3 separate regions of the Homo sapiens genome follow, and all the other regions are linked to region 2. Evidence: fine-mapped expression QTL. A gene starts in region 2. Each other region holds a variant in brackets. All regions are shown on one strand. Distances are between the middles of the regions. Region 1 overlaps SMAP1 (small ArfGAP 1). Region 2 holds the start of B3GAT2 (beta-1,3-glucuronyltransferase 2). Region 3 overlaps B3GAT2 (beta-1,3-glucuronyltransferase 2).

Region 1 (2,762 bases), 98 kb after region 2:
TGGGGTTTATACTATTAGAGGTATTACTAACATGATAACTACTTCCCTTATATGCAAACATTAGAGCTATAATTTTATTGAGAGGAAAACTGATTTTGCAAGTTGAGCAGCTTCTCAAATAATGCAGTACATGAAATCATGGGAAATATGAGCAAAGCTGCCCTTGACATAAAATGATTTATCAACCTGCTTTTCACCACATCAAATTGAATCAGTACAGACCAACACGGTCAATCAGATCATTCTTAATATGAACAAATGGGTAAAAAGAAAAAAAATATGCATATGAATAAACAGGGGAACTAGATGCGTTTCAGCAAGGAATGTCAGGTGGTAGTTCTGGATGAAACTTGTATTGCAGTTTTCATTTCCACAGTTGTGTGCTGAGAGTCTGACCTGATGAGCTTCCAGACCATCCTGCTGTTGTGCTGGAGGGCTGGCCAAAACCTGCAGTAGGGGTTGCACTACTGATACTCATGCCAGCCATCTGCTGATTCATCTGTGAAACATATAAAAGGCTTAGTTCAAGAGGCTTACTTCACTTTTAATTCTTGTTTCTTTAGCCACACAGTTGGTCATTTTTTCATTAATGTGACAACTAGTCCAAGCACTGGAATAAAAACAGAGTACCATACAAATATTTCTTAAAGCAAATAGCTACTTTGTTCCCTTCTTTATCTACTTTCTAGATACAGTTTCCCCAAAGATTAACCACAACTTACTTAAAAAAAAATACCAAAGCAATCTTGGGATTTTAATGAGTCCGCTACTCTAACTAACTTTCACCTACACTAGGATATTGTGCTTTAACTACTAAGGAGTAAGAAAATTTTAGGAAGTAAAATAGTCTAAAATTATCCTATAAACTTTGTATGATAGATATTATTCTCTATTAAAATCTTATATACTTCCTAAATATTTTTAAAGTGGTCATAAAGCATTTATTTCTCTCGCTGATCTAACAACATAAACATCTAAAATTTATTTTCATTGTATGCAATAAAGCATAAGATTACATGTATTTTTCTTCAAGACTGGAGTCAAATATATATATATATAAGCATCTTAACCCTGTGATTCTCTTACTTCCAAAATTGGTGATAAGAGAAGGAAAGGCAAGATTTACCATATAGTGAGTGGGTTTAAAACTTACACTCAGAGTTAGACTGTGTTCTTAATTTAATACATTTGACTTGACTTATTTACAGTTTCAAAGACACTAACATAAACTACATCACTAATCAGGCATAAGTGTCTGAAGAAGCAGATCACGTCTTCATACCTACTAAAGGACATTTTAACCACCTTGTC[A/G]TTGGCCAGTAGATTGCACTGATGGAGTGCTGGAGAACAGCATCACCCTTCTGCATTATCTGGAAGTAAGAGCCAGTATTAACTCCTTCCTGGTTCATCTAGCACCTTAACCTGAGCTGGGTGTGCTTCAGCATGTTGACCATGTGACTGACACTTAGCACATACAATTTTTTAGATTCCCAGCGGGTAGAGACCAATGTTTTACCTATATTCTTGTAAATGGTGGTAGCAAAATTAACTGTGATATATAGTGATTGTGCTAATGTTAGAAATCACTCTAGACTATTCCCTGAATGCTCTAAAGGTAAAACAAGTGACCAAACAGAAACCAAGATTGCCAAAATGCTGGAGGAACATCAATGGGAAGTGTAAAAGGAAGAAGAGTGGGAGCATGAACCTCTCTAAGAGCCTTTGTCTGTGCAGCTAGAGAAAAGTCAGAACACAGCACCTGAAATAGAAATGTTCTATCTCAGCTCTAACTTAGGTAGAAATAGGATTTTATAATATGAGGGGATGTCTGGTTCACACCTTATGGGAATTGAATCTTTTTGTACTCTTTTTAAACATAAAAGTCATTATAGGGTATGTAAAAAGAAAATACAACTTTACAAAGGTTTCTCAACAAAAAGAATTTTTACAGAGCCATGGGGCAGTAATCATCCGACCTGAAAAATAGCCTTAGATCCCTCATAAAATAGTGCTTTGAGAATATGAGGCTAGATTTTTATTTTCTAATAAAAGATCCTAAAATTATTAGTGAAGCTAAGTTGTCTAAGTGGACTGTAAAAATGTCCCACCAGCAAGCTGGATAAAGCTTAGTGCTAATCTCAGAGGTGACAGAGAGGGAGTCTCATGATGCCTGAGATAATTTCTGGCCATTAGTGGTGTTCACGTTACAGTTACATTACAATTTGAAATGAAAGATGTTTAACCTTTTTTTTACAGAATACTCTAAAATAGCGATAATAACACATCATTTGTCTATCTGATACAACTTCATAATATTTATAGATACTTTTGACCCTATAACATATTATCCCTATTGAATTCTTTCTGCCAGATCACTAGACTTAAAAAAAAAAAAAAAAAAAAAAAAAAAAGATTTAGAAAATAAATCTGGTTTGATTTGGGAGAAGCTAGAAAGTAAATGACCCCTACCTGTGAGAGGCTCCACTGGGGCTGCTGAGCTTGCGGCAGGCCAAACTTACTCTGGGGTGCACCCATTTGTCCCACCATTCCTCCTTGGGGGCCAACAACGTTCTGAGGAAGTGGCATCACACCAGTTTGTGCATTTCCCATAAACCCATTGGGCATGGGCATGCCCACCATCATGCTTGGACTCTGTCCCATCACATTTCCTATAAGGCCAGGAGCTGCAGGCACAGGCACGCCCATCGATGGAAAGCCCTGAAATGCAGCTGGTGCTTGTGAGGTAAATGGTATATTTGTGG
Region 2 (2,762 bases):
CGGAGAGAGATTTATTTGTGAACAAGCCCGAGAAAGGCAGACAACCCAGACAAGATGGGCTCAGAAATTATTTATCATAGGCTAGGGCAGAACAGTCTGGAGCTTTCCTTCTGCTTTGCAAGCACTTCCCTGGGACCTGCCTGGGAAGCACAGCCCTTCTTCCTGGTAAGTTACAGAAGGTCAGGCACTCAGCTAGTAGGCCAGCTAGACAGCAAAAAGTGTCTAAACTAAGTGCCAACTGTTTACTTGGGGTCTTCCAGACCCTATCATGGTTCTATTCGTCATGGTACACTCTGTTTGATTTCAATCGCACCATCTTTATATGTAGGAAGGCCAAACCGGCCCGGCTGTGTTGGGTGGGATTTCTGCAGGCCATGCAGTGAGGACGCCACTAGCTATAGACACACGCAGGAGACCCACGTTCTATTTCCATATGCCACTTGCCACTGACCTCAGAGAAATCATTTTAAACCCTGAACCTCAGCTTCCTTATCCTGAAAATGAAGGCCATTCTACTTCTTAGGCCTTCTTGACAGGAGCCTTGGGAGAGCCAAACGGAGTAATTCCGGTGACAGCGAAGAACTGGGAGGGACCGTGACTCCAAATTACTGAAGAAAAATAAGTTAAACATGCTCGGCTGGAGTTTTAGGAATTCCACCCGCCCCCACCCGCCATGATCAAACTGCAGTCAGGCAGCAGCCCTCCGAATTGATTCTTTCTTATGGACTGTCTCACATGCCAAACACCTATGTGCAGCACCCCTCCATCTCCGTGGGCTCCTATTGATGTCTGCCTTGCAGTGAAAGCGCTTTTTGTTGCCGCTGTTCGATACACCCCAGCACATCAACGCAGCAGCTGGGAGCAGGAGGAGGAATCCCTTCGCTTTCTCCCCTCCTTTCACTCCGAACCCTAGGCATCAGCAGCAACGCGCGTAGCCCGGCAAATTTCCGCACGTGAATGGATTTTCCTGGCTCATCTCCAAAGACCTTGCGGTATTTCACAAAGCTGAAGAGAGGTGAACGAGCATCACCCCCTCCAGGAGGTCGTGCAGCCCCGCGGGGACGCTCCTCCCGCTCCTCCACCCGCGGTGCAGCGGCCGCCTCCCGAGCTTGCTCGCGGGGCCGTTAGCGCCAGACCCGGCGGAGAGCCAAGGGGTCCCTCCGCGCCTCCCTCTCGCAGCCCCTCTCCACCAGTAGCAGCGCTGCTGTCTTCCCACAGGAGGACTTGGGAGGACGCTGGATTCTGCAGCGCCCCCGCCCCCTCGCTTTTTCTTTCTTTCCTTGCTTTGGGATCTTGCTGCTGGATCCGGAGAGGTTCTGAGAAGACAAGAGCAAGGGACTGAGAGCAGGCTTCCGCTGCGGCGCGCGAACACAGCCGGGACACAACCCCCAGCGTCTCCACCCGCTCCTCGCCACCCCGGCGGGAATGTGAGGAAGGAAAGCCCCCAGCGCCGCCGCCCGCCCTCGAAGGCGTCCCAGAGAGCGTCCTGGGGGCCCGCGGCTGGAGCCCTTGTGCCCGCAGCACCGCCGGACTGGAGCGGCGAGGCGCACCGGGTGCCGCTTCTCGGCTTCCACTCTTCAGAAAGAGCGCGGTGGGGATCAGCGCCTTTCCCGCACTCGGCACAACTCCGGGACCGGCGGCGCGCGGCTGGACCGAGTCCCGCTTCCCGCCAGCTCACCTGGAGTCGGGGGCAGCCCCTGCCCGCCCGCCTGCACCCCTTGTCGCTCTAGCTTGCGCGAACCTGCCGCTCCTCCACGCCCAGGTAGTGAGCCCCGCGGCTCCAGGTCTCTGCAGCGCCCTCGGCCCCATGGACAGCGCACCCATCACCACTCCCTAAGTGCTGGCGCCGCCGCTGTCCAAGCTGCGCACTGGGGTCCCTCGGCTCGCCCCTCTCTGGGGTGTCCGAGAGGCCAGGGAGCGTGCACCATGAAGTCCGCGCTTTTCACCCGCTTCTTTATCCTCCTGCCCTGGATCCTAATTGTCATCATCATGCTCGACGTGGACACGCGCAGGCCAGTGCCCCCGCTCACCCCGCGCCCCTACTTCTCTCCCTACGCGGTGGGCCGCGGGGGCGCCCGACTCCCGCTCCGCAGGGGCGGCCCGGCTCACGGGACCCAAAAGCGCAACCAGTCTCGGCCGCAGCCACAGCCGGAGCCGCAGCTGCCCACCATCTATGCCATCACGCCCACCTACAGCCGCCCGGTGCAGAAAGCGGAGCTGACCCGCCTGGCCAACACGTTCCGCCAGGTGGCGCAGCTGCACTGGATCCTGGTGGAGGACGCGGCGGCGCGCAGCGAGCTGGTGAGCCGCTTCCTGGCGCGGGCCGGGCTGCCCAGCACTCACCTGCACGTGCCCACGCCGCGGCGCTACAAGCGGCCCGGGCTGCCGCGCGCCACTGAGCAGCGCAACGCGGGCCTCGCCTGGCTGCGCCAGAGGCACCAGCACCAGCGCGCGCAGCCCGGCGTGCTCTTCTTCGCTGACGACGACAACACCTATAGTCTGGAGCTCTTCCAGGAGGTAAAGGCCAGCCTGCCCCGCTGGGTGGGCGAGGGCGGGAGTGGGCCTCCGGGCCGGCCGGGCTGCAGTCACACGCCCCTTGCACTCCGGGTGCACTTTTGAGTTCTCAGTTCTCCGTGCGCGCATTCGGGGCACCGAGTGGAGCCGCTCCTTGCTGGCACTCCGCAGCCTCCGCTGGCCGTGGGGGTGGAGGGGCTGTGTGTGAGAGGATCACTGTGGCTTAAGGGGCGGGAGTCTGCCCTGGG
Region 3 (2,762 bases), 88 kb after region 2:
TCTCCTAATGCTATCCCTCCCCCCTCCCCCCACCCCACAACAGTCCCTGGTGTGTGATGTTCCCCTTCCTGTGTCCATGTGTTCTCATCGTTCAATTCCCACCTATGAGTGAGAACATGCGGTGTTTGGTTCTTTGTCCTTGCGATAGTTTGCTGAGAATGATGGTTTCCAGCTTCATCCATGTCCCTACAAAGGACATGAACTCATCATTTTTGATGGCTGCATAGTATTCCATGGTGTATATGTGCCACATTTTCTTAATCCAGTCTATCGTTGTTGGATATTTGGGTTGGTTCCAAGTCTTTGCTATTGTGAATAGTGCCGCAATAAACATACGTGTGCATGTGTCTTTCTAGCAGCATGATTTATAATCCTTTGGGTATATACCCAGTAATGGGATGGCTGGGTCAAATGGTATTTCTAGTTCTAGATCCCTGAGGAATCGCCACACTGACTTCCACAATGGTTTTACTAGTTTACAGTCCCACCAACAGTGTAAAAGTGTTCCTATTTCTCCACATCCTCTCCAGCACCTGTTGTTTCCTGACTTTTTAATGATCACCATTCTAACTGGTGTGAGATGGTATCTCATTGTGGTTTTGATTTGCATTTCTCTGATGGCCAGTGATGAACACACACAACTGTTAATGCTAATTAAATGAGTTTAGCAAGACTGCATTGATACAAAATCAATATATGAAAATCAATTGTATTTATATACACTAGCAATGAACAATCTGAAAATTAAACTAAGAAAATTTCATTCACAATAGTGTCAGAAATAATAAAATGCTTAGTAATAAAGTATGACTTACACAGGAAACTATAAAATATCACTGAAATGAAGAACTAAATAAGTGGAAAGATATGTTCATGGATTAGAAGACTTAATATTGTTATGGGTCAGAAGACTTAATATTGCTAAAATGGCAATATTCCCCCAATTAATCTACAGATTCAATGCAATCTTTATCAAAATTCTGGCTGCCCTTTTTGTAAAAATTGACAAGGTATTTGTTTCTAAAATTGATATGGAAAGTGATGAACTCAGAAAGAAGTTAGGGGATTTATACTTCCCAATTTGAAAACTTATAAAACTACAATAATG[T/C]CATCACCAGATGGAGCGACATGCACCTTATAGTCCCAGCTACTCAGGAGGCTGAGGCAGGAGCATCCCTCGAGCCCAGGAGTTTGAGACCAGCCTGGACAACATAGGAAGACCCTGTCTCAACTTAAAGAAAGCAAACTACAGTAATACAGTGTGGTACTGACATAAGGATAGCCATATAGATTAATGAAATAGAACTGACAGTGTAGAAATAAATCATTTATGGTCAGTTGATTTTTGCCAAAGGTTCTAAGACAGTTCAATGGGAAAAAAAGTCTTCTCAAAAATTGGTTCCCAGAGTTATGAATATGCTAAAACCGCCCTTAATCATACCATATAAAAGGACAAGTTTTAATATATGTGAATTATATCTCAATAAGGAGGGGTGGTGGGCAGGAAAGGTGGAAACACACAACATTCCAAAAGGCAGTGTATGCTTTGCTGGGAAGAGGTATGAAAGGAGAGTTGGCCGGCTCAGAATTAGAGGAGGTCCCACACATATCTTTCTTTCTCCAGCAAGTTCCATGACTGCACTGTGTGTATATACTTTTTAATATGAAAGTTGAAATCTCTTTTTCTTATTGTTTAACGTGGGGGGGGAAAGAGAGGCTTTTGAAATTACCTGATAGCTATTGGTAACACTAAACATGTGTCAAGAGCCCAATACTCTAGGACAACTACCCAGAGTGATTATTACACAGAAAAAGCTGTTAGTATCTTTCTTGTGGCCAAACTATAAAAGTCTTGTTGCCAAAAGTCATCGTTTAGAAACTGGAACTAGTTCTTATTTGTAACAGCCTTGCTGAGATTAGATGATGTATAGTTGGAGAAGAGAGAATGTGGCAGTGGGATGAGCCTATGGAGGTGAGGCTAAATTGATACTTACACAATAGAAGAACTGAGAAGCACTATTGATACTGTTAACTGTGGCTGAAGGAAGAAGAGGAGGCTTGCTGTACTTCTTCCTTTCCAATATTTCTGCCTTTTTTGTGGGGGTGGGAGCCTTATTTAAATGGCCAGGATCTCCAGGACTTTGTTGAATAAAAGTCAAGAGCAGCCATCCTTGCCTCATTCCAATCTTCAGGGATTTAACACTCAGTCTTTCACCAATTAAGTATAATGTTGGCATTAGGTATTTTTGTAGATGTCCTTATTAAGTTGAGAAAGTTCACTTCTAGTCTTAGTTTGCTGAGAGGCTTTTATTTCTTCTTTTCATTATGACTAGATGTTAGATTTTGTCAAAGCATTTTCTCCAGCTATTGTGATAGTCAGATTTTTTTTTTTAGTCTGCTAATATGGTGAATTACATTGATTGATTTTGAAATTTTAAACCAACATTGCAATCTGGAGATAATCCTCAAGTGGTCATGATTTATTGTCTTTTTATTGTTGAATTTGATTTGCTAAAATTTTGAGAATTTTTCTGTGATCATGAGGATTATTAGTCTGTAGTTTTCTTGTAATGTTTTTGTCTGGTTTTGGTATCAGGGCAATGCTGGTCTTACAGGATAACTTGAGAAAGATTTCCTCCTTTTCTATTTTCTAGAAAAATTCATGTAGAATTGCTGTCATTTCTTCCTTAAATGCTTGGTAGAATTTACCAGTGAAGCTCTCTGGTCCTGGAGGGTTGTGTGTATGTGTGTGGAAGATTTTA

The links.
Region 1: its variant is fine-mapped to the expression of B3GAT2 in pancreas (GTEx, PIP 0.98).
Region 3: its variant is fine-mapped to the expression of B3GAT2 in tibial nerve (GTEx, PIP 0.93).

Annotation. Positions count from the first base shown.
Region 1 is chr6:70,857,937-70,860,698 of GRCh38, reverse strand. It overlaps SMAP1 (small ArfGAP 1), which reads right to left. Exons shown (of 11, transcript NM_001044305.3): 10 at 2,470-2,762; 11 at 1-499. The coding sequence ends at 365. It overlaps B3GAT2 (beta-1,3-glucuronyltransferase 2), which reads left to right. Exons shown (of 4, transcript NM_080742.3): 4 at 1-2,762. Among named protein-coding and RNA genes, the nearest start is that of B3GAT2, 98 kb to the left of the region's middle. The variant A/G (reference allele first, on the strand shown) is at 1,312.
Region 2 is chr6:70,955,594-70,958,355 of GRCh38, reverse strand. B3GAT2 (beta-1,3-glucuronyltransferase 2) reads left to right here and starts at 1,296. Exons shown (of 4, transcript NM_080742.3): 1 at 1,296-2,517. The coding sequence starts at 1,927. LOC124901229 reads right to left here and starts at 1,928. Exons shown (of 2, transcript XM_047419611.1): 1 at 1,828-1,928; 2 at 1-1,724. The coding sequence starts at 1,928. The coding sequence ends at 998. RefSeq lists an enhancer at 1,521-2,036 and silencers at 1,965-2,094, 2,565-2,704.
Region 3 is chr6:70,867,666-70,870,427 of GRCh38, reverse strand. The region is part of intron 2 of B3GAT2 (beta-1,3-glucuronyltransferase 2); the gene reads left to right. Among named protein-coding and RNA genes, the nearest start is that of B3GAT2, 88 kb to the left of the region's middle. The variant T/C (reference allele first, on the strand shown) is at 1,109.